Linked DNA regions of Homo sapiens. The protein of the gene in region 3 purifies or fractionates together with the protein of the main gene of each other region. This does not show direct contact. Each region holds a gene or a part of one and is shown on either strand. Other genes may lie near its edges. The genes, in order: TIMM9, ANXA6, THOP1, EXOSC10, PLS3, TALDO1 and NUAK2.

Region 1 (3,500 bases), on a different chromosome or scaffold from region 3:
TACCTCCACTTCCTTTTTTTTTTTTTTTTTTTTAACAGGGTCTTGCTGTTTTATCTGAGCTGGAATGCAATGGCATGATCATAGCTCACTGCAGCCTTAAACTCCTTGGCTCAGGCAATCCTGCCTCAACCTCCAAGTAGCTGGGGGTATAGGACATGCCACCATGCCCAGCTACTTTTCTTTCTTTTCTCTTTTCTTTTCTTTTCTCTCTTTCTTTTCTTTTTTTGGAGAGAGAAGGTATCACTATGTTGCCCAGTGTATTAGTCCATTTTCACACTGCTGGTAAAGACATACCCTAGACTGGGCAATTTACAAAAGAAAGAGGTTTAATGGACTTACAGTTCCACATGGCTGGGGAGGCCTCACAATCATGGCTGAAGGCAAGGAGGAGCAAGTCACATCTTACATGGATGGCAGAAGGCAAAGAGAGAGAACTTGTGTAGGGGATCTCCTCTTGATAAAACCGTCAGATCTTGGGAGACTTATTCACTATCATGAGAACAGCATGGGAAAGACTTGCCCCCATGATTCAATTACCTCCCACCAGGTCCCTCCCACAACACTTGGGAATTCAAGATGAGATTTGGGTGGGGACATAGCCAAACCATATCACCCAGGCTGGTCTTGAACTCCAGAGCCCAAGGAATTCTCCCACCTCAGCCTCCCAAAGTGCTGAGATTACAGGCATGAGCCACGACACCTGGCCTTTTTCCTTTTCTAATGTATGCATTTAGTACTAAAACTTTTTCTCATGGCACTGATTTAGTTTATCACCATGTAATGATGTCAGCATATTACCAGTTCAAGTGAAGTATAGAAACCTTAATTGTCTACATACATTTAGAACCACAATAGATGGTTTTATAATTTTTGCTTCAACCGACAAACATAATTTAGGAAACTCAAGAGAAGTGTATTGTACCTATTACTGTGTTTTCCTCCTTGATGTTCCAGGACTACTACTTTTATCATTTTCTTCGTTTAGAAACTTGAGCGATTATTTTAGGTAGCTATGCTGGTAACACATTTTCTTAGTTTTCCTACATTTGAGAATGTCTTGATTTCTCCTTTATTTCTCAAGGTTGTTTTCACTAGATACAGGTTTCTGCATTGACAGTTGTTTTCCTTTAGCACTTGAAACATTTTGTGCCACTTCCTTGTGGCCTCCATAGTTTCTAAAGAAAAATCTGCTTTCATCCTAATGGTTTTACCCCTACAGGCAAGATATAGTTTTTCACTTGCTGCTTTCAATGGCTTTTTGTCTTTATTTTTTATTTTATTTATTGTTATTTATTTATTTATTTGCTACAGAGTCTCACTCTGTCACCCAGGCTGGAATGCACTGACATGATCTTGGCTCACTGCAACCTCTGCCTCCTGGGTTCAAGCAATTCTCGTGCCTCAGCCACCTGAGTAGCTGGGATTACAGGTGTGTGCCACCACGGCCAGCTGCTTTTTGTATTTTTTTTTTTTTTTTCAGTAGGGACGGGGTTTCACCATGTTGACCAGGCTGGTCATGAACTCCTGACCTCAATCGACCCACCCGCTTTGGCCTCCCAAAGTGCTAGGATTATAGACGTGAGGCACTGCGCTCAGCCTTGTCTTTAGTTTTCAGATGTTTGACTATTATGTGTCGATGTAGGTTTCATCGGGTTTATGCTGTTTGGGGTTTGTTCAGCTTTTTGAATCTGTAGGTTTATGTCTTTTGCCAAACTTGGGGAGTTTTCAGCCATTATTTCTTCCACTACTTTTACTACCCTACCCTTTTCTTCCTCTCCTTCTTGGACTCTAATGAGACAAAATATTCACTTTTTTATACTTCTACAAGTCCTTTGTACTCTGTTAATGTTTTTCATTCTGTTTTTCTCTGTAATTCAGGTTGAAGAATTCTATTTTCTGGCTTCCAATTCACTGATTCCTCTGTCCCCTCCATTCTCCTATTGATTTTATTCATTGAGTTTATTTTGGTTATTGTATTTTTCACTTCTTAAACTTTCCATTTGGGTCTTGATATCTTCTATTTCTTTGCTGAGACCTTCTGTTTTTTCATTTGTTTCAAGTGTGTTCATAATTGCTCACTGAAGTATTTACAAGGTGCTATTTAAAAATCTTTGTCAGATAATCCTAACACATATTAATCAATGTTGAGCATCTGTTGTCTTTTTTTAATTCAGTTTGAGATCTTCCTAGTTCTTGGTGTGATGAGTGATTTTTTAATATATTGTAGCCTGGACATCTTGCATATCATGTTATGAGGCTCTAGATGTTATTTAATCATTTTATCTGGCTCCTTTTGACAATGCTCCATGAGGGGAAGTGGTGGGAGGTACCACTTCATTACTGCCAGGTGGAAGTAGAAATTCATCTTCCTCACTCTGACACTTGAAGGGAGGGGCAGGGAGTTTCTTGTTACTGCTAGGTGGAGTAGGCATTCTGGCTCCTCACCAGGCTTCCACTGATAACTCCCTGGCTGGGAAGGACTACAGTGCTTTGTTACTCTCCCCATGTGGCCTCCACTGACATTACAGCAGGGTACATGGCCTAATTGTCATGAGGCAGTAATGCAAGTCCTGAATGTCAAGTAGGCCTCCTTAGATACCACCCCAGAGTAGATGGAGATGGGTACCTCATTACTGCCAATTGGGGTGGAAAGCCAGGCTCCCTGTGTGGTTTCCACTGACACTCGCTGGGGAGTGGGGAGGCTTTTCTGTGCATACGAAGGAAATGACATTTTTTTAAATGTCAGTAGTTATTGTGAATTTCTTTCTTTCTTTTTTTTCTTTTTTTTTTTTTTTGAGATGGCGTCTCACTATGCGGTGCAGGCTGGAGTACAGTGCTGCAATCTCGGCTCACTGCAACCTCCGCCCAAGGGGTCAAGCAGTTCTCCTGCCTCAGCCTCCTGAGTAGCTGGGATTACAGGCATAAGCCACCATGCCCGGCTAATTTTTGTATTTTCAGTAGAGATGCGGTTTCACTATGCTGTCCAGGCTTGTCTCCAACTCTTGACCTCAGGTGATCCACCTGCCTCAGCCTCCCAAAGTGCTGGGATTACAAGTGTGAGCCACCGTGCCCAGCCTAGTTATTGTGATTTTATAGGATAAGAAAAAAGGAGGAAAGTATAGGTATGGTTGAGACTGGTGGAATGGAATTACTGTTGATTGTATGTGTTAATCAAAAGCAGAATGTTAATTTTTTTTTGTGATGGTGGCATACACTTTGTCCTAAACTTGAATTTACTACTAGTTTCAACGAACTTCATAAAAATTAGTTTCAACAAAGCTTCATAAAGAATTTATGTTTTCCAGAGATACTTTAATAATTGATAAGCTAATAAAAATTTGCACATCCAGTTTATCATTTTTGTTTTGGTTATCAGAAAACTCTTAACTAAATAAAATGTATAGCATTTATGTTAGTCTACAGTGTACATGATTCATGTTTTCCTTTTACATGCTGTTTAATTTCTGTTTCAAACAGCTTTATTTTATACAAACCTTTTT
Region 2 (3,500 bases), on a different chromosome or scaffold from region 3:
GGAATACTTAATCTGGGCCTTGAAGGTTGAGTAGGAGTTTCTCCAGAAAGAAAGGAAGAAAGGCATATAGGTATAGTCATGTACCACATAATGGTGTTTTGGTTAATGATGGACCACATATATGATGCTAGTCCCATAAGATTATGGACCAGATATGTGATGCTAGTCCTATAAGATTATAACCCCATATTTTCACTGTGCCTTTTCTATGATTATTTATGTTTGGATACACAAATTCTTGCCATTGTGTTGCAGTTGCCTACAGTATTCGGTAAGATAACACGCTGAACAGGTAGGTGTGCCGCCTAGGAGCAATAGGCTATACCACGGAGTCTGGGTGTGTAGTAGGCTATGCCATCTAGGTGTGTGCGAGTGCTCTATGATCACACAATGGCAAAGTCGCCTAACAATGGCAGTTCTCAGAATGTATCCCCATCATTAAATGATGCATGACTGTTTTATTTGCAAAGGTCTTCAGGCTACCAATTACTCGTGTGTTCAGGGATCAGGCAGCAGTTCTGAGTGGCTTGGTCAGTGTGTCCTGTCTCCTGAGGTTTCCTCTTTCAGTCAAGTGCCACCTCTTCCCCTTCAGGACCTATACGAGGCAGGGGAACTGAAATGGGGAACAGATGAAGCCCAGTTCATTTACATCTTGGGAAATCGCAGCAAGCAGCATCTTCGGTTGGGTAAGCTCCAGAGAAGACCTGAAGCTGCTCCCTTGGGTTGATGCCAATAATGCCTTTCTTTATCTCTTTTCTTTTCTTTACCACTAATGGAACATGATACCTACTTCATTCCCAACCCAAACTTTAGTCCTGAGTTTATTAGGTTGGTGCAAAAGTAACTGCGGTTTTTGCCGTTTTTAAAGGAATGGCAAAAACCGCAATTACTTTTGCACCAACCTAATATCAGACAGCAGTTTGTATAGTCCCTCAGCAAAGTCATTAACAGGATGCTTGGCCTTCCATCTCAGTGCCAGTCCTGTCTCCATGTTAGGGGATGAGACACAGTCTCTCACCAGCTATGAAGCTCATCTGCACAGCGCTGGTGATGTGCGTGACCTCCCAGTCGCCTCCATCATAGCACCAGCCCTAGCTTCATGGTGGACAGTCGTCCTGGCCACTGTGCCCCCCTGCTCTTGAAGTCCTCATTTCTTCTCGGGGGTACAGAGGCACTCTCAAACCTCCCTGTCTCTCTGTCTGACGCAGTGTTCGATGAGTATCTGAAGACCACAGGGAAGCCGATTGAAGCCAGCATCCGAGGGGAGCTGTCTGGGGACTTTGAGAAGCTAATGCTGGCCGTAGGTATGTCCTGACGTTGCATTCCTGGGGGCTTTAGGGGATTCTGGAACACTGGCCTAGGAACAAGGGGCTGAGAATGGAAAGGGGAATTACATGGTATAGAATTGGGAAGGAGAAAACCATGTGGGCCGTGAATTCTAAAGGTTTCTCCAGGGCAGCATGGCTGAGGCTGGGGACGGGAAGGGGGTTTGAGCCTCAGGTACTGACTTCCTCCAGCTCCCTTCTCCACCACTGGCAGGGGGACAAAGAGCTCTGAACTTGGGTTGAGGATAATGATGATCATAATAGTTGACTTTTGTTGAGCATCTAGTGCATGCCAGGCACTGTGCTGAGTGTGTAATCTTTAAAAAAGACCCAGCAGTGGCCACTGCCATGATCTCTATTTCACAGATGAGGAAACTGAGTCTCACCAGGCTGATCATTTCCTGAGGGGTAGTTTTGTAATGAGTTGGGGGTACTGAGAACGTGAGGATGTGAGGAACTGGCTAGTCAGTGGTGGAGCCAAGATTCAAACCAGGGCTTCTCCCACATGGGCTTGGAGCAAGTCACTTCTGCTTGCTGGACCTCAGTTTCCTCATCTGTTAAGTGGGGTGCAGGGTGTGGGGGCAGGAAGGATGGACTGCCTTAATTGCCTCCCCAGAAGCCCTTCCAATTCTGGCATTCCAGCAGTTAGCATGTCTGAGTCAGGGATATGTTGTGTGTTTGTATTTCTTGGGGGAAACCTGCAGCTCCTTTATCGTCCCTCCCAGAGCCATCCCCTGCCCTCCCTGTTTGAAGTAGTCAGCCAGTGGGACTCACGGTGATTCAGTGGGATTCACAATGATTCAGCTGCCAGTACCTTTCTGGTGTAGCAGGTCTAAAAAACACCTTTTCCTCCTTCGCCCCAGACCCTACCCCCACCCCAGCTCAATTCCCTGTTAAAACCAAAAGGACTAGAAAGATAAAGGCGGTCTTTGTGATGGACTTCAAAAGGATTATTTCAACAAGATTATTTCCTGTTTATTCCCTGGGTGTGCGGTAAAAGTGGGTTGGTCTGGGGTGATCTGGGGCTGTGAGCTATCAGGAACGGTGGTTCTTCCTGTATTGAGCTAGGTGGCCCTCAAGGAATAGAAACAAAGAGGGAGTCAGGCCATCCCATCCCCCTTCTGAGGCAGCCAGAATAACTCTACCTCTTCCTCCCTCTTCACAGTGAAGTGTATCCGGAGCACCCCGGAATATTTTGCTGAAAGGCTCTTCAAGGCTATGAAGGTGCGTGGTGGGGCTGATGTGAATGGGGTTTGGGGAGAGGACTATTGGGAGTCTTTGACAAGTCCTTGGGATCCAGTGGCCAAAGAGAGCCCTTCAGGGATGGCCACAGGACTGACCCTGGTGAAGGTGCTCTGTCGCAGGTGAGCTGTAGAGCCAGGAATGCTGCTGGTCACATGTCCTGCCACCTGCATACCTGCCTGACGTCATGAGTCAACAGATGAACTTAGGGTGGCAGCCTGCACCTGATCCCTCCAGCCAAATGGGTTGGCGGCTCGGACTTTGAAGAAGTATTAACCAGAATGTTTTTATACAGCGTATGTAGGCAAGACCACTTTGGCCTTGCCTGCTAAGACTCATGATGCTCACCCTGTGACAGTTCCACTCTGGGTGTGTTTCTGAGAAAGCTTCCCAGGCTTTTACACATATGACGCACAAAGAAACTGGTATTTTTGTGATGCACTGGAGGAAATGAATGCAGTTATTTGCTGCCAGAGGCCTGAGGCCCGAGACACAGGAGCTTGGGCCTTTCTGGCCCTGGTTGGCCATTCCGAAAGGACAAAGTAGACTGTCGGCCATTCTCTGCCCACCAGTGTGCCATAATGAGGTTGGGCAGCTCAGCCCTAGAGAGATGTTTGCCTGTATGCATGAATTCATTAAGAATGCCCATCACAAGGCTGAGTGCATGCAGTGGCTCACACCTATGATCCCAGCACTCTGGGAGGCCAAAGTGGGAGGATCACTTGAGGCCCAAAGTTCAAGACCAGCCTGGGCAACATAGTAAGACCCTTGTCTCTACAAAAATAACAAATAGAACTAGCCAGGGACTGTGGCACATACCTGTAGTCCTAACTACTCGGGAGGCTGAGGCAGGAGGATTTCTTGAGCACAGGGCCCCTGGGTTTGAGGCTTCAGTGAACGCAGTGCTATGTGATCACGCCACTGTACTCTAGC
Region 3 (3,500 bases):
AAAACCAGCTTTACCAGATAAGGGGTAAAATGTTCAAAAGCTGCCAGACACGGTGACTCATGCCTGTAATCCCAGCACTTTGGGAGGCTGAGGTGGGAGGATTGCTTGAGCCCAGGAGTTCGAAACCAGCCTGAGCAACATGGTGAAACCCCGTCTGTACCAAACATACAAAAATTAGCTGGGTGTAGTGGCGTGTACCTGTAGTCCTAGCTACTCAGGAGGCTAAGGCAGGAGGATCAATTGAGTTGGGAGGTTGAGGCTGCAGTGAGTCGAGATCATGCCACTGCATTCCAGCCTGGGCAACAGAGCGAGTCCCTGTCTCAGAAGAATGTTGAAAAGCTTAGGCTGCAGGCTCTGAAGGTGATTCCTTAATGGATAGGAGGGTCTGGAGCACTCTTGGCCAGGGCCACACCTGACAGACCGGAGCACATCCCTGAGGTTGCCCGAGGTCACCCAGCTTTGGATGCCGCAGCTGGTGTTGAAATCCACACTGCGCAGCCTCGTGGCCTCCGTGTCTGTCTGTCCTCCGCCTCCCGTCTCACTCTTTCCTCCTCGGTTGCCTCTTCTTTCGGCCTGGTTCTTGGGGAAATCCCTCAGCCCTCGGCGAGAGGGTTCCCAGGCGTTGCGTCTCCCCGCGGAGCCCGCCCCGGTCTCTCCCTCCCCTCACGCCCCGCCTTTCTCTCCAGAACATCAAACGCATCAAGAAGAAGCTGAGCCTTCTGTGCATCGACTTCAACAAGAACCTGAACGAGGACACGACCTTCCTGCCCTTCACGCTCCAGGAGCTAGGTAGGGGCCGAGCAGTGGGGCACGGGTGGCCATCGGTCCTGGGACTCAGTGCAGGCCTGCCAGGCCCTCGGGGGCCGCCGCTTCCTCCTGTGGGCTTCTGTGCTGAAGGGCGGCGGGAGGCCGAAGTACGTGGACCTGACCGCCCTGGGCTGAGGACTTTCCTCACCGGAAGCGCTCCAGGGCCGTTTACAGCCAAAAGCTCTGAGCCCTCCTTGGGGAGGGCCATGGTCTGTCCCACCAAGATTCCACCCTGATAGAAAATGTCCCTGGCAGTGGCGGAAGCCCAGGCCGGACGGGGTGGCCAAGGGTGCCAGTCTCAGCCATGGCCCTGAGGGAACCACAATTTTCCCTTGAGACCCCACTTCCTGCCTGCCTTTATTTATTTAATTTAATTAATTAATTAATTTATTTTGAGATGGAGTCTTGCTCTGTTGCCCAGGCTGGAGTGCAGTGGTGCGACCTCCACTCACTGCAACCTCCGTCCCCCGGGTTCAAGTGATTCTCCTGTCTCAGCCTCCTGAGTAGCTGGGACTACAGACGTATGCCATCACACCTGGCAAATTTTTTTATTTTTAGTAGAGACGGTTTCGCCGTGTTGGCCAGGGTGGTCTCAGACTCCTGGGCTCAGGATCTGCCTGCCTCAACCTCCCAAAGTTCTGGGATTACAGGCATGAGCCACCGTGCCCAGGCAGGCCGGAATATTCTGATGGGTGCTATAGAATATAACCTCCAGTTCTAGACTCTGAATGTAGTTGCCTCTGAGGTGGTGGGTGGGGACAAGGCCCTCATGGCCGGAGGCCTCCGCAGGTGGCTTGATGTGTGGTCACCTGGGCGTATGTTTCCTGAGGGAACACTCGCAGGTCGGGCACTGCCAAGCTTGGCTGCCAGCCACTTGCTCAGCCCTCCCGTGTCTCGGGCAGCACATCCTACCCTCAGCTTCTGGCACTCAGGAGAGACGACGGGCTACAATCTGCCGTAAAGCACGTTTCCCAGCCTGCCCCTCAGTGGGTGCACTGATCACCCGCACCATTCCCGCAGCCACCCACGCCATCCCGCGGCCACCCGCACCGTCCCCGCGGCCACCCGCACCATCCCCGTGGGGCTGCTTCTCCTGCCTGCTCGTGTTAGCAAGCAGAAGGACTCGGTGCCTGATGTTCTAGAAGCCAATGCCATGGCACCAAGGATTTGAGGAAACAAAAGCTTCTCATTGCAAGTGACTCCCAAGGAGACTGGGCGTCCAGCTCAAATCTGCCTCCTGTGCCAGCTTTCAGGCAGTACTTTCATGAGAGAAGGTGCAGAGGTGGATTCTGGGATTAGCAGGTGATTGTTGGAAGGAAAGGGGAGGTCTGGAAGGTCCTTGGGCACGCACAGTTATCTGTCCGTGCCAGCTCGTGGGTCCTGGGTGTGAATCCTGGGGAAGTCTGTATGAAGCGCGGTGGAAGTTCAGTTGGCATCAGCCAGCTGGTTCTGCACAGACTCTGCTGGCTCATGTGGGTTCCAGCCGGTTTCAGCCAGTTTTGTTCTTGTCGGCGTTTCAGCTGCCTGTTTCTTTTCACGTTTGCCATCCTGCAAACTCGAATGTTTGTGGATTTTGGTGTCTAACTCTTTGGGGTGCCGTTCCATTTGTCGGGCCTGAGGGGTCTCCCGTGCAGGTGGCTTGAGTCCCATGTGGCCAGGTGACACCGTCATGCGGGTGGCTAGCGTGTTGGGTGACAGTCTCCAGGGCTGTCCGCTGCTGCTGCCCCGGGACCTGTTTCCCTTTGTGGTCCGTCATTTCTCAGGAGACGCCTTGCGATGGTCTTAGTTCCTTTTCTTCTGCTTACAACAGAAAACCTAAGGCCATGTAGTTTATAAGAAAAGGAATTAACTTGTCACAGCTCTGGAGGCTGAGAAGTCCCAGGTCGAGGGGCCATATCTGGCCAGGGCCTTCTTCCTGGTGGGGACTCTGGAGCCCTGAGGCGGCCAGGGTGTCACATGGCAAGGGGAGGGGGCTAAGCGAGCCGGTTCCACCCAGGTCTCTCCTCCTCACAAAGCCCCAGGCCCTCTGCCACATTAACCCATCTGTCCCTTCATCCATGAATCCATGAATGGATTCATCCATTCCTGAAGGCAGAGGCCACATGACCCAGCTGCCTCTTGAAGGCCCCAGTACCTAATCCTGCCATCTCCCAATACCACCATCTCCAACACCGCCATCTCCCGATACCCACATCTCCCAATACCCACATCTCCCGATACCGCTACCTCTCAATACCGCCACCTCCCAACACTGCCATCTCCCGATACCCACATCTCCCAATACTGCTACCTCTCAATACCACCACCTCCAACACCACCATCTCCAACACTGCCACCTCCAACACCACCATCTCCAACACCGCCACCTCCAACACCGCCGTCTCCCGATACCTCCACCTCCGGACACCCCCACCTCCTGACCCACCCACCTCCCAACACCAACACCTCCCGACACACCCACCTCCCGACACCCCCACCTCCCAATACCAACACCTCCCGACACCCCCACTTCCCGACACCCCCACCTCCCGACACCAACACCTCCCAACACCAACACTTCCCCACACCCCCACCTCCCAACACTAACACCTCCTGACACCCCCACCTCCCGACACCCCCACCTCCCAACACCAACACCTCCCGACACCCCCACCTCCCGACACCAACACCTCCCGACACCAACACCTCCCGAC
Region 4 (3,500 bases), on a different chromosome or scaffold from region 3:
GTGACCACTCCTGAAGTGCTAGGATTACAGGTGTGAGCCACTGCGCCCAGCTAGGGTGCAAGTTTTATTGGTTTCATCAAAAAGTATCAGGGGCCAGACATGGCGGCTCATGCCTGTAATCCTAGTGCTTTGGGAGGCAAAGGCAGAAGGATCGCTTGAGCCCAGGAGTTCAAGACCAGCCTGGGCAACGTAGGGAGACTCCATCCCTACAAAAAATTTTTAAAGTAGCTGGGAGTGGTGGTGCACCACTCCCAAGTCACAGCTACTTGGGAGGCTGAGGTGGGAGTATCACTTGAGCCCAGGAGTTCAAGGCTACAGGGAGCTGTGATTGTACTGCTGCATTCCAGCCTGGGTAACAGAGCAAGACCCTGTCTCTTTAAAAAAAAAAAAAAAAAAAAGAAAGAAAGAAAGAAAGAAAAAGGCTGGGCTCATGGCTCACACCTGTAATCCCAGAACTTTGGGAGGCCGAGGCAGGTGGATCACTTCAGGTCAAGAGTTCGAGACCAGCCTGGCCAACGTGGTGAAACGTCATCTTTACTAAAAATACAAAAATTAGCCAGACCTGGTGGCGTGTGCCCATAATCCCAGCTACTCAGGAGGCTGAGGCATGAGAATCGCTTGAATCCGGGAGTCGGAGGCAGGCAGATCACTTCGGGTCAGGAGTTCGAGAGCAGCCTGGCCAACATGGCAAAACCTCATCTTTACTAAAAATACAAAAATTAACCAGACCTGTTGGCATGTGCCTATAATCCCAGCTACTCAGGAGGCTGAGACACGAGAATCGCTTGAACCCGGGAGGTTGAGGTTGCAGAGAGCCAAGATCATGCCACTGAACTCCAGCCTGGGCAACAGAGCAAGACTGTCTCAAAAAAAAAAAAAAAGATGTGTTGGGAACAGTCTGAGCCACATCATTTGAACATTCTCTCTCACAGAATGTAAACAAGTGAAATAAAAATCTACAAGCTAACCTTGGTTTTCCTTTCCTTAGCATGAGCAGAGTAATGCAGTACCATGGGTGTCGCAGCAACATTAAGGATCGAAGTAAAGTGACTGAGCTGGAAGACAAGTTTGATTTACTAGTTGATGCCAATGATGTAATTCTGGAGAGAGTGGTGAGTATTTTCCCTTACTCTTTTTTTTGTTTTGTTTTGTTTTTGAGACGGAGTCTCGCTCTGTCGCCCAGGCTGGAGTGCAGTGATGCGATCTCGACTCACTGCAAGCTCTGCCTCCCGGGTTCACAACACTCTCCTGCCTCAGCCTCCCAAGTAGCTGGGACTACAGGCGCCCGCCACCACACCTGGCTAATTTTTTTGTATTTTTAGTAGAGACGGGGTTTCACCGTGTTAGCCAGGATGGTCTCGATCTCCTGACCTTGTGATCCGCCCGCCTCAGCCTCCCAGAATGCTGGGATTACAGGCGTGAGCCACCACACCCGGCCTTCCCTTACTCTTATGGTAACTAACAAAGAGCTTTGTATTATTAAAATATACGGATAGACAGAGCAACCCAGGCACCTTAGAAAATGAAAAGGAAATAAGCTTAACATTTCTTATAATAACATTCCCTTCTAATAGTTGGTATATTTTTTCTAAAAAATAATTACAGTTGTCTTAAAAATATTACTGCCCCATGGAAGCTTCTTTTTTTTTTTTTTTTTTGAGACGGAGTCTTGCTTGGTTGCCCAGGCTGGAGTGCAGTGGGGCGATGTTGGTTCACTGCAACCTCCACCTCCCAGGTTCAAGCGATTCTCCTACCTCAGCCTCCGGAGTAGCTGGGATTACAGGCACCCACCACTATTCCTGGCTAATTTTTGTATTTTTAGTAGAGACATCGTTTTGTCATATTAGCCAAGCTGGTCTCAAACTCCTGACTTCAAGTGATCTGCCTGTCTTGGCCTCCCAAAGTGCTGGGATTACAGGCGTGAGCCACCTCACTGAGCCTGAAAGCCTGTTTTTAAAGTGCCTTATTCCAGCCAGGTGTGGTGGCTCACACCTACAATCCCAGAACTTTGGGAGGCCAAGGCGGGTGATCACCTGAGGTCAGGAGTTCAAGACCAGTCTGGCCAACATGGTGAAACCCCGTCTCTACTAAAATATAAAAACTAGCCAGGCCATGGTGGCACACACCTGTCATTCCAGCTATTCAGGAGGCTGAGGCAGGAGAATCGCTTGAACCCGGGAGGCCAAGGTTGCAGTGAGCCGCGATCATGCCACTGCACTCCAGCCTGGATGACAGTGAGACTCTGTCTCAAAAAAAAAAAAAAAAAGGTGGCCTGGCATGGTGGTTCACGCCTATAATCCCAGCACTTTGGGAGGCCGAGGTGGGTGGATCCACCTACCTGAGGTCAGGGGTTCAGGAGCAGCCTGGCGGACATGGTAAAACACTGTCTCTACTAAAAATATAAAAAATTAGCTGAGTGTTGTGGTGGGCACTTGTAATCCCAGCTACTCAGGAGGCTGAGGCAGGAGAATCGCTTGAACTCGTGAGGCAGAGGTTGCAGTGAGCCAAGATTGCACCATTGCACTCCAGCCTGGGCATCAAGAGTGAGACGCCATCTCAAAAAAAAAAAAAAAAGTTAAAGTGCCTTATTCTGGCCAGGGTCAGTGGCTCACTCCTGTAATCCTAGCACTGTAGGAGGCCGAGGTAAGAGGATTGCTTGAGCTCAGGAGTTCCAGAACCAGCCTGGGCAACATAGTGAGACCTTGTCTTTATTTAAAATTAATAAATAAATAAAGTGCCTTATTCTGAATCTGTCTTCCAGATCTGCAAATTCTGTTTTTATTTTTTTGGATACTGAAGTCTTGCTCTGTCACCCAGGCTGGAGTGCAGTGGTGCAACCATAACTCACTGCAACCTTGAACTCCTGGGCTCAAGCGATCCTCCCACCACAGCCTCCCAAGTAGCTGGGACTGCAGGTGTGCACCACCACGTCTGGCTGAATTTTTTTTTATTTTATAGAGACAATGTCTTGCTGTGTTGCCCAGGCTGGTCTTGAACTCCTCAAACAATCCTGGCCTCAAACAATCCCCCCCCACCTCAGCCTCCTTAGTCACTAGGATTATAGGCATGAGCCACTGTGCCTGACAAGATTTGCAAATTCTATTTGTGTTGCAAAAGAAGAGGCATTTATATCACCCAACCAAAATTTAGTTTATTTGTACCGTTACTCAAAATCTACTGAACCCCCTCCAGCTCACAGGATTGGAAGGAGATGTGTATTATTCTGTCTTGCTTACTATCTATTTATGCCTAATTCTATGGCAGAACGTTATTTCCACAGAAATACATAGAGATCATGGAAAACAAATCTGACTTCAACCATCTGACAGTCCTGAAAATATTTAAATCATGCCCTCCTGTCCCATGAAGTCATCTCTTCCCTAGTCTAAATGCCTACAAATCTTTCAGCAGTTTCTGGTATATTGTGATTTCAAGTCCTGCCATAATCCTATGTGTCACCTGGTTGTGCCTCTGTTAGTAGTGCCCAAGCTGATATTTCA
Region 5 (3,500 bases), on a different chromosome or scaffold from region 3:
ATGCCATAGGATGGAGTGGATTACATTGGCTAAACCATTTTTCTTCTCTTTCTTTTTTTTTTTTTTTTTTTTGAGACAGAGTCTCACTCTGTTGCTGAGGCTGGAGTGCAGTGGCACCGTGTCGGCTCACTGCAACCTCCATCTCCTGGGTTCAAGCAATTCTCCTGCCTCAGCCTCCCGAGTAGCTGCGATTACAGGCGCCCACCACCATGCCCAGCTAGTTTTATATTTTTAGTAGAGATGGGGTTTCACCATGTTGGCCAGGCTGGTCTTGAACTCCTGACCTCAGGTGATCCACTCGCCTCGGCCTCCCAAAGTGCTGGGATTACAGGTGTGAGCCACCGTGCCTTACGTGGCTAAACCATTTTTATGCTGCCCTTATCAGAACTGAATTTGTAACTGACTTGTGTGCTTATATTTCTGTCTGTATGTTAAATGCAAAACTCTTCAGCTCAGGTCACTCTTGGTAGGGATGAGGGGCCATCTTGTCCAAGAAGGGAGCTGTCTGGGTTGGCTAGCCATGTGATCTGATACCAGGGTAAATGGCATCAGTATGCTAACCGATTCTGATACACCCCTTCTCTAGTCAATCCTTTCCAATTGATCTTAAAACACTCTTTTGTCTCTTCCCTCTTCAGAATCCGACAAGGATTCTTCTGTTGACTCTAGAATTCAGTCTGAAATGTTCTGCTTGGCACTCACCCTACAAATCTTGCTCTAAAATCTAGCCAGTGTTATTTCCCCAAAAGTCTGTGTTCCCCACCCCAACCTTCCTTCCCACCACCACCCAGGTGCCTTTGCTCATGCTGTTCTCATGGTTTTCAGTGTCCTTCATCTTTTTCAGCTTTACACCTTCTTTAGGGTCTTTTTTTTTTTTTTTTTTTTTTAAGAGACGAGGTTTCGCCATGTTGGCCAGGCTGGTTTCGAACTCCTGGGCTCAAGCAATCCTTCTGCCTCGGCCTCCCAAAGTGCTGGGATTACAGGCGTGAGCCACCACGTCCAACCAAGGCCTAATTTTAACTCTGAACAGTTTTACCTGTTTTTTATTTCAATTTAACTTTTTTCTCTTCGTCTTTGTAATGGAAAAAATCCCTTCCTTTCGTCCTAACTTTTTTAATCCTTCAATTCCCTGAGATTAATCCTTGGTCTTGCCTTCCACCATTCTCCCTACGCTCAAAAGAAATCAGTGGAAATAGATTCTCTGCTTCTCTTCAATTCAAGCAACAGTTCACAAGCATTTCCCTTGGGATTTGAGCATGACATGAATGAAGGTGTCTGTCTTCTCCCTCAGCCAGGGAAGCCTACTTCCACAGCTCAGCACAACTTCCTCTCTCTCTAGCTCGCTCTCCAGCAGTGCCCTCCTTTCTAGTTCCTTCTGCTGCATAACACAGCCCCAGAGGTTCCAGGGTTCCAAGGAGTCCACTCTGTCATGAAGCTCATTGACTTAATGCACAGTACCCAGAAGCCTCAGTGAAGTTCAGCTGAGAGCCAGTAGAAAAAAGGAGAAACTCCAAAGCAGAAAGTAGTAAATCAGCAAAATAAAATAAAATAAGCCAGGTTGAAGAGAATGAACCCACAATTTACAGAAAATGAACACCATTTTCTAAAGGAGACTTAAGTAGGACTACAGTTAATACCCTTTCACATTTAATAATTAATTGAGATTCATTGTAGATAAAGTACATTTGAAAAAAAATTTTAACATAATTCTACTGAAAATATCTGAATATTTAACTTGAGGTGGCTTAAAAGGACAATTGAAGCTGTTTTCCTATTGAGAAGGAAAAAAGGAAAAGTGGAACCAGAGAAAGTGAAGATGGTGAATGTATATTTTTCTCTACAGATTTTCAAACAAAATCTGGGAGTTTCCCCCAACCTTTTACGTAACTTCTTTCTTAATGCAATTTAGTTAAATGTACTCAGTAGTTTGCTGTGTGATCTGGCGCCATCTAGTGTATATTACAGGTACTGCATCTCCAAGAGGGCCAACCTTTTTTTTTGCATTCAAAACAATTTTATAATAAGTACCATATGTTAGCTAAAAGAAAGTAGAACTGTATACCCAGACTATGACAGTGGGGAAATTTTCTATATTTTTAGTGTGGCCTTTGACAAAGTCTTCCGATTTTGTTTCAACAGGAAACAGATGATTTGAAGAGAGCTGAGAGTATGCTTCAACAAGCAGATAAATTAGGTTGCAGACAGTTTGTTACCCCTGCTGATGTTGTCAGTGGAAACCCCAAACTCAACTTAGCTTTCGTGGCTAACCTGTTTAATAAATACCCAGCACTAACTAAGCCAGAGAACCAGGATATTGACTGGACTCTATTAGAAGGTAACTAAAAACCTCAATTTCGAATGTGTGGGACTATAGAGTAGAAATACATAGGCCACAATGATTTTACAATCTAGACTTAATAAGTTTTTTTATATCTACAAGAAGTAGATGGCAGATGCTGAGTAAAAACTGGCAGGAAAGTACGATACAAGTGAACTTTTAAAGTAAAGTAGTCGAGGCCGGGCACGGTGGCTCACAGCTGTAATCCCAGCACTTTGGGAGGCCGACATGGGCGGATCACCTGAGGTCAGTAGTTTGAGACCAGCCTGACCAACATGGTGAAACCCCGTCTCTACGAAAAATTAAAAAATTAGCTGGGGCGTGGTGGCACATGCCTGTAATCCCAGCTACTCGGGAGGCTGAGGCAGGAGAATCACTTGAATCTGGGAGACGGAGGTTACAGTGAGCCGAGATCGCGCTATTGCACTCCAGCCTGGGCAACAGAGTAAGACTCCATCTCAAAAAATAAATAAAAAAAATAAAAAGTAGTCGAGTCGCTTAATGTAAAGCCACTTAGTAAATCAGTATTTAGTTTTAATATTTAGGGTTAGACCACTTTTTAATCCTCTCACCAGGAAAAAGTGCACATATGCATTCAGTTTGACCTGTAAATTTAGCATATATTTATGTTTCATTCATCCACAGTCAATGTAACTGGAACTAACCCCAACTCCTTTCACCTTTACCTCCTCAAGAAACAAATGATAATATATACTAATTTTTTTTTAAGTTTTGGAAAGGCAGAGTTTACCTTTTCCAGATTATATATGTGTGAAGCGTAGTCTATAAAAATTAAGAAATGCAGCCAGGCGCGGTGGCTCACGACTGTAATCCCAGCACTTTGGGAGGCCAAGGTGGCCAGATCACCTAAGGTCAGGAGTTCGAGACCAGCCTGGCTAACATGGTGAAACCCCGTTTCCACTAAAAATACAAAAAATTAGGCAGGCATTGTGGTGCGCACCTGTAATCCAGATACTCGGGAGGCTGAAGCAGGAGAATCCCTTGAACCTGGGAGGCAGAGGTTGTAGTGAGCTGAGATCGTGCCATTGCACTCCAGCTTAGGCAACAAGAGCAAACCTCCATCTCAAAAATAAATAAATAAATAAATAAATAAATAAATAATGCAAATAGTAATTCATTGAGTGTCCACTGATATTTCTAT
Region 6 (3,500 bases), on a different chromosome or scaffold from region 3:
CGCCTCCTGGGTTCAAGCAATTCTCCTGCCTCAGCCTCCTAAATGGGACTACAGGTGTGTGCCACCATGCCCGGCTAATTTTTTATATTTTTTAGTGGAGTCGGGGTTTCACCGTGTTAGCCAGGATGGTCTCGATCTCCTGACCTCGTGATCCCCACGCCTCGGCCTCCCAAAGTGCTGGGAGCCACCGTGCCCAGCCTAAAATTTCTTTATATTTTTGTAGAGACAAGGTTTCACTTTGTTGCCCAGGCTGGTCTGGAACTCCTGGGCTCAAGTGATCCTCCCATCTCAGCCTCCCAAATTGCTGGGATTACAGGCATGAGCCATCTTGCCCAGCCAGCATATATTTTATATAACAATAGTTTACTTTTTAAAAATCATGTAAACATAGGCTTGTGTTGATCAGGACAGAGGAAGGACAGAATCTGAATCTGCAGGTGCTAACTAGTGGCTTTTCTTCTCTGCTGAGTGGGTGGATGGTACTTCCTGGGAAATCCCTCATTTCTGATCACCAGCAAGTGAGGGAGCTGGCTCTGGAGCAGAGGGCAGATCTAGGCTGACATGAGCTGGTCAAGTCCAAGCTGTGGGCTGTGCTCCCCAGTCTGGCATTCCCCAGGGCTGAGAGAGTCAAACTTGCCTGATGCCATGTAGACCCTGCTCCAACAGAGGAAAAATCTCTGAGAGCTCCTTCCTTGTGGGGGACCACTTACTTTCCAGCCTGAATTCCTTCCCAGGTTGATGACAGCTTTATAAGAATTCGGTCCTTGCTGATCCCAGCTTCCTTGTAGAGCTCGATGAGCCGCCTGGCTCTGGCCACCATCGCATCTTTATCAAAGGAGAGCCTGTAGGAGCAAGAAGAACCCATCCCCTCAGATCACGCAGGTTGCCCACCACGCAGAGCAAGCTGGAGGCCGGGTGTCTGCCTGTCAGTTTTGAGCAGCACCACCGTGAGCACCAACCACTGCCCTCAACCTTCCCCTCACTGGAGGTTTGCAGAATGGCTCTGACAGCAACTCACACCCAGTCTCACAAACAGAGGTCCTCAGTGGGATCCATAGGCTATAATTTGTATTAAAAAACACTGGGCCAGGTGCCGTGGCTCACGCCTGTAATCCCAACACTTTGGGAGGCTGAGGCGGGAAGATCACAAGGTCAAGGGATCGAGACCATCCTGGCCAACATGGTGAAACCCTGTCGCTACTAAAAATACAAAAAAATTAGCTGGGTATGGTGGCGGGTGTCTGTAGTCCCAGCTACTTGGGAGGCTGAGGCAGGAGAATCGCTTGAACCCGGGAGGTGAAGGTTGCAGTGAGCTGAGATCACACCACTGCACTCTACACTGGCAACAGAGCGAGACTCTGTCTCAAAAAACAAACAAAACAAATCAAAACAAAAAACACTAGCAGCCGGGCACAGTGGCTCATGCCTGTGATCCCAGCACTTTGGGAGGCCGAGGCAGGTGGATCATGACGTCAGGAGTTCAAGACCAGCCTGGCCAAAATGGTCAAACCCCATCTCTATTAAAAATACAACAAATTAGCTGGGCATGGTGGCAGGTGCCTGTAATCTCAGCTACTTGGGAGGCTGAGGCAGAGAAACGCTTCAAGCCGGGAGACAGAGGTTGCAGTGAGCTGAGATTGCGCCACTGTACTCCAGCCTGGGTGACAGTGCGAGACTCCATCTCAAAAATAAATAAAAATAAAAATAAAAAACACTAGAGATCAGTTGCTAAACAAGGAGCTCTTGGTCATCACTACCAACTGTGGGAGAGCTCAAAATAAACCTCCTCTTGGGCCCTTGGGATGAAGACCATGGGTGGAGCAGCCCCTTGACCTCATGTTGGCATCCACGTGTGCAACTGTGGACACCTGACCAGCCCATCCAGTGCAGGAGCAAGCATCCTTACCTTGCGTCTACTTCTGTGGATACTCGGCCCGGAATCTTCTTTAGTATTTCTGCTCCAAACAACACAAAAAGTTTATCAATAGCATTTTTAATCTGGTCCTCTTGTGACCTGAAATTCAAAGGGAAAAAAAGCAGGTTAGAAGCTTCTGAGGTTCGCCAGGTGCGGTGGCTCACGCCTGTAATCCCAGCACTTTGGGAGGCCGAGGTGGGCGGATCATGAGGTCAGGAGATCAAGACCATCCTGGCTAACACGGTGAAACCCCGTCTCCACTAAAAATATTAAAAAATTAGCTGGGCATGGTGGCGGGTGCCTGTAGTCCTAGTTACTAGGGAGGCTGAGGCAGGAGAATGACGTGAACCTGGGAGGTGGAGCTTGCAGTGAGCAGAGATCGTGCCACTGCACTCCAGCCTGAGCGACAGAGCGAGACTCCATCTCAAGAAAAAAAAAAAGAAGCTTCTGAGGTTCAAGTGCACAAGACTCTACAAAATAAATTCTGTTATTTCTTTGCCAAATTTCCTTCCCTCCATCTTTTTTTTTCTCTTAAAACATTTTTTTATTGTGGCCAAATAATACATATAACATAAAATTTCCCATCTTATCCTTTTTTTTTTCCCCCAAGACAGGGTCTCCAGCTAAGGCTGGAAGCACAGTAGTGTGATTATGGCTCATTACAGCCTTGACCTCCCGGGCTCAAGTGATCCTCCTGCCTCAGCCTCCCAAGTAGCTGGGACTACAGCTGCACACCTCTATACCTGGCTAATTTTTTTGTTTTGTTGAGATGGAGTGTCACTCTGTCGCCCAGGCTGGAGTGCAGTGGCACAATCTCGGCTCTGCCAGCTCTGCCCCCCGCGGTTCACGCCATTCTCCTGCCTCAACCTCCTGAGTAGCTGGGACTACAGGCGCCCGCCACTGTGCCCGGCTAATTTTTTTGTATTTTTGGTGGAGACGGGGTTTCACCGTGTTAGCCAGGATGGTCTCGATCTCCTGACCTCGTGATCCGCCTGTCTTGGCCTCTCAAAGTGCTGGGATTACAGGCGTGAGCCACCACGCCTGGCCCATGCCCAGCTAATTTTTATATTTTTTTGTAGAGACAGAGTTTTGCCCTATTGCCTAGACTGTTCTCGAACTCTTAGGCTGAAGGGATCCTCCCATCTTGGCCTACCAAAGCACTGGGGTTACAGGCGTGCACCACTGCCCCCAGCCCACCATTTTAAAATGTATTCAGCACATTCACAGTTCTGTACAACCATCACCATCCATCTCCAGAGCTCTTTTCATCATCCCAAACTGCATCCCTCTATCTTTTGGCACTTGCAAAATATTATATTTTCTATCTCTTCAAAGTTATTGGACAGACACCCAGTGAAGTCCATGATTCTGTTCCAAAATCTGAGCAGCCTTGTTAGCCCACTACACACAGGAAGATCTTCAGCTAGACGCTCAGAGGTTAGAATTCTTGGGCCAGACTGGGTGCAGTGGCTCACGCCTGTAATCACAGCACCCTGGCAGGCCAAGGTGGGCAGACTGCTCAAGCTCAGGAGTTCGAAACCAGCTAGGGCAACATGGTGAAACCCTGCCTCTAAAAACAAATACA
Region 7 (3,183 bases), on a different chromosome or scaffold from region 3:
ACAGTCCTGAGGGGTCAGAGGACAGAGAGGCAGCTGGAGGAGTCAGTCCAGGAACTCTGGACTGGGGAGCTGTCCTGGGCCAAGGCATGTATAGAGCCCTAGGTTGGAAGGGACGCATCCGACCCAGGAGTATGCAGTGTCATAGCTCAAAAGGGGATGAGCTGGGGACAGGGGACAGGGAGTGCCTATTCTGGGAGCTGCCAAACTGAAGCACCTGCCTTTTGTCTTCCAGATGCCTGTGGCCTGATCCGGTGGCTGTTGATGGTGAACCCCACCCGCCGGGCCACCCTGGAGGATGTGGCCAGTCACTGGTGGGTCAACTGGGGCTACGCCACCCGAGTGGGAGAGCAGGAGGCTCCGCATGAGGGTGGGCACCCTGGCAGTGACTCTGCCCGCGCCTCCATGGCTGACTGGCTCCGGCGTTCCTCCCGCCCCCTCCTGGAGAATGGGGCCAAGGTGTGCAGCTTCTTCAAGCAGCATGCACCTGGTGGGGGAAGCACCACCCCTGGCCTGGAGCGCCAGCATTCGCTCAAGAAGTCCCGCAAGGAGAATGACATGGCCCAGTCTCTCCACAGTGACACGGCTGATGACACTGCCCATCGCCCTGGCAAGAGCAACCTCAAGCTGCCAAAGGGCATTCTCAAGAAGAAGGTGTCAGCCTCTGCAGAAGGGGTACAGGAGGACCCTCCGGAGCTCAGCCCAATCCCTGCGAGCCCAGGGCAGGCTGCCCCCCTGCTCCCCAAGAAGGGCATTCTCAAGAAGCCCCGACAGCGCGAGTCTGGCTACTACTCCTCTCCCGAGCCCAGTGAATCTGGGGAGCTCTTGGACGCAGGCGACGTGTTTGTGAGTGGGGATCCCAAGGAGCAGAAGCCTCCGCAAGCTTCAGGGCTGCTCCTCCATCGCAAAGGCATCCTCAAACTCAATGGCAAGTTCTCCCAGACAGCCTTGGAGCTCGCGGCCCCCACCACCTTCGGCTCCCTGGATGAACTCGCCCCACCTCGCCCCCTGGCCCGGGCCAGCCGACCCTCAGGGGCTGTGAGCGAGGACAGCATCCTGTCCTCTGAGTCCTTTGACCAGCTGGACTTGCCTGAACGGCTCCCAGAGCCCCCACTGCGGGGCTGTGTGTCTGTGGACAACCTCACGGGGCTTGAGGAGCCCCCCTCAGAGGGCCCTGGAAGCTGCCTGAGGCGCTGGCGGCAGGATCCTTTGGGGGACAGCTGCTTTTCCCTGACAGACTGCCAGGAGGTGACAGCGACCTACCGACAGGCACTGAGGGTCTGCTCAAAGCTCACCTGAGTGGAGTAGGCATTGCCCCAGCCCGGTCAGGCTCTCAGATGCAGCTGGTTGCACCCCGAGGGGAGATGCCTTCTCCCCCACCTCCCAGGACCTGCATCCCAGCTCAGAAGGCTGAGAGGGTTTGCAGTGGAGCCCTGAGCAGGGCTGGATATGGGAAGTAGGCAAATGAAATGCGCCAAGGGTTCAGTGTCTGTCTTCAGCCCTGCTGAACGAAGAGGATACTAAAGAGAGGGGAACGGGAATGCCCGCGACAGAGTCCACATTGCCTGTTTCTTGTGTACATGGGGGGGCCACAGAGACCTGGAAAGAGAACTCTCCCAGGGCCCATCTCCTGCATCCCATGAATACTCTGTACACATGGTGCCTTCTAAGGACAGCTCCTTCCCTACTCATTCCCTGCCCAAGTGGGGCCAGACCTCTTTACACACACATTCCCGTTCCTACCAACCACCAGAACTGGATGGTGGCACCCCTAATGTGCATGAGGCATCCTGGGAATGGTCTGGAGTAACGCTTCGTTATTTTTATTTTTATTTTTATTTATTTATTTATTTTTTTGAGACGGAGTTTCGCTCTTGGTGCCCAGGCTAGAGTGCAATGGCGCGATCTCAGCTCACCTCAACCTCCGCCTCCCGGGTTCAAGCGATTCTCCTGCCTCAGCCTCCCTAGTAGCTGGGATTACAGGCGCCCGCCACCATGCCCGGCTAATTTTGTATTTTTAGTAGAGACAGGGTTTCTCCATGTTGGTCAGGCTGGTCTCAAACTCCCGACCTCAGGTGATCCACCCACCTCGGCCTCCCAAAGTGCTGGGATTACAGGCGTGAGCCACCGCGCCCCACCTAACCCTTCCTTATTTAGCCTAGGAGTAAGAGAACACAATCTCTGTTTCTTCAATGGTTCTCTTCCCTTTTCCATCCTCCAAACCTGGCCTGAGCCTCCTGAAGTTGCTGCTGTGAATCTGAAAGACTTGAAAAGCCTCCGCCTGCTGTGTGGACTTCATCTCAAGGGGCCCAGCCTCCTCTGGACTCCACCTTGGACCTCAGTGACTCAGAACTTCTGCCTCTAAGCTGCTCTAAAGTCCAGACTATGGATGTGTTCTCTAGGCCTTCAGGACTCTAGAATGTCCATATTTATTTTTATGTTCTTGGCTTTGTGTTTTAGGAAAAGTGAATCTTGCTGTTTTCAATAATGTGAATGCTATGTTCTGGGAAAATCCACTATGACATCTAAGTTTTGTGTACAGAGAGATATTTTTGCAACTATTTCCACCTCCTCCCACAACCCCCCACACTCCACTCCACACTCTTGAGTCTCTTTACCTAATGGTCTCTACCTAATGGACCTCCGTGGCCAAAAAGTACCATTAAAACCAGAAAGGTGATTGGAAGCAGGCCCTGCTGTTCTCTTTGGTGACTGAGGTGGGGAGGGATGGTGCTGAGCAGGTTTTTGAGCCTTCTCCTAATACTCGTTCCCCTAGGCTGCCAGGGATGGGAAATAGAAAAACTGCCGAATCAAAACAAACGTGAGCTCAGTAGCTCTGGCCTGACCCTATTAAGCACACAGGTGGGAAGGCCCTGGGCCCAGGGTCCCAGTTGCTCTTCCGGCCTTTGGCACTAAAGTAGAAGTGGATTTGGCAGATTATCCCACCCTGCCCCCACCACCTGCCTCCTTCTCCTCCCACCCCTGCTCCTGTCTGCTTGAGCCCTGCTCCTGCTGCGTAAAGACACCCCCACAGCCTTTATTCTCTCCCTCCTAAGAAATCCCCTTTACTCTGGTGCTGGGCAGCTTTTCCCCCCTCCGTCCTCACTGCCTGACTCCCAGAGAAAGCAAAGAATGCCTGGAATGTCCACCCCCACCGTACGCCAACTCCCTCAGCCCCCTGCAGAG

Evidence for each region.
Region 1: the proteins of THOP1 (region 3) and TIMM9 fractionate together in Homo sapiens (co-fractionation; one large-scale study listed by BioGRID). This does not show direct contact.
Region 2: the proteins of THOP1 (region 3) and ANXA6 fractionate together in Homo sapiens (co-fractionation; one large-scale study listed by BioGRID). This does not show direct contact.
Region 4: the proteins of THOP1 (region 3) and EXOSC10 purify together in Homo sapiens (affinity purification with mass spectrometry, with the first as the bait; one large-scale study listed by BioGRID). This does not show direct contact.
Region 5: the proteins of THOP1 (region 3) and PLS3 fractionate together in Homo sapiens (co-fractionation; one large-scale study listed by BioGRID). This does not show direct contact.
Region 6: the proteins of THOP1 (region 3) and TALDO1 fractionate together in Homo sapiens (co-fractionation; one large-scale study listed by BioGRID). This does not show direct contact.
Region 7: the proteins of THOP1 (region 3) and NUAK2 purify together in Homo sapiens (co-immunoprecipitation; one large-scale study listed by IntAct). This does not show direct contact.

The regions. Positions count from the first base shown.
Region 1 is NC_000014.9:58,414,032-58,417,531, reverse strand, and holds part of TIMM9 (mitochondrial import inner membrane translocase subunit Tim9), read left to right. Parts: intron 1-451; exon of another isoform or gene 452-486; coding exon of another isoform or gene 487-489; intron 490-3,500. UniProt on the Homo sapiens protein: Mitochondrial intermembrane chaperone that participates in the import and insertion of multi-pass transmembrane proteins into the mitochondrial inner membrane.
Region 2 is NC_000005.10:151,130,280-151,133,779, reverse strand, and holds part of ANXA6 (annexin A6), read left to right. Parts: intron 1-592; coding exon 593-686; intron 687-1,208; coding exon 1,209-1,304; intron 1,305-2,490; coding exon 2,491-2,549; intron 2,550-3,500. UniProt on the Homo sapiens protein: May associate with CD21. May regulate the release of Ca(2+) from intracellular stores.
Region 3 is NC_000019.10:2,799,003-2,802,502, forward strand, and holds part of THOP1 (thimet oligopeptidase), read left to right. Parts: intron 1-686; coding exon 687-789; intron 790-3,028; exon of another isoform or gene 3,029-3,500. UniProt on the Homo sapiens protein: Involved in the metabolism of neuropeptides under 20 amino acid residues long. Involved in cytoplasmic peptide degradation. Able to degrade the amyloid-beta precursor protein and generate amyloidogenic fragments.
Region 4 is NC_000001.11:11,093,370-11,096,869, reverse strand, and holds part of EXOSC10 (exosome complex component 10), read left to right. Parts: intron 1-988; coding exon 989-1,112; intron 1,113-3,500. UniProt on the Homo sapiens protein: Catalytic component of the RNA exosome complex which has 3'->5' exoribonuclease activity and participates in a multitude of cellular RNA processing and degradation events.
Region 5 is NC_000023.11:115,641,174-115,644,673, forward strand, and holds part of PLS3 (plastin-3), read left to right. Parts: intron 1-2,139; coding exon 2,140-2,335; intron 2,336-3,500. UniProt on the Homo sapiens protein: Actin-bundling protein.
Region 6 is NC_000011.10:757,464-760,963, reverse strand, and holds part of TALDO1 (transaldolase), read right to left. Parts: intron 2,015-3,500; coding exon 1,907-2,014; intron 843-1,906; coding exon 711-842; intron 1-710. UniProt on the Homo sapiens protein: Catalyzes the rate-limiting step of the non-oxidative phase in the pentose phosphate pathway. Catalyzes the reversible conversion of sedheptulose-7-phosphate and D-glyceraldehyde 3-phosphate into erythrose-4-phosphate and beta-D-fructose 6-phosphate.
Region 7 is NC_000001.11:205,301,563-205,304,745, reverse strand, and holds the end of NUAK2 (NUAK family SNF1-like kinase 2), read left to right. Parts: intron 1-232; coding exon 233-1,296; 3' UTR 1,297-2,683; downstream 2,684-3,183. UniProt on the Homo sapiens protein: Stress-activated kinase involved in tolerance to glucose starvation. Induces cell-cell detachment by increasing F-actin conversion to G-actin. Expression is induced by CD95 or TNF-alpha, via NF-kappa-B.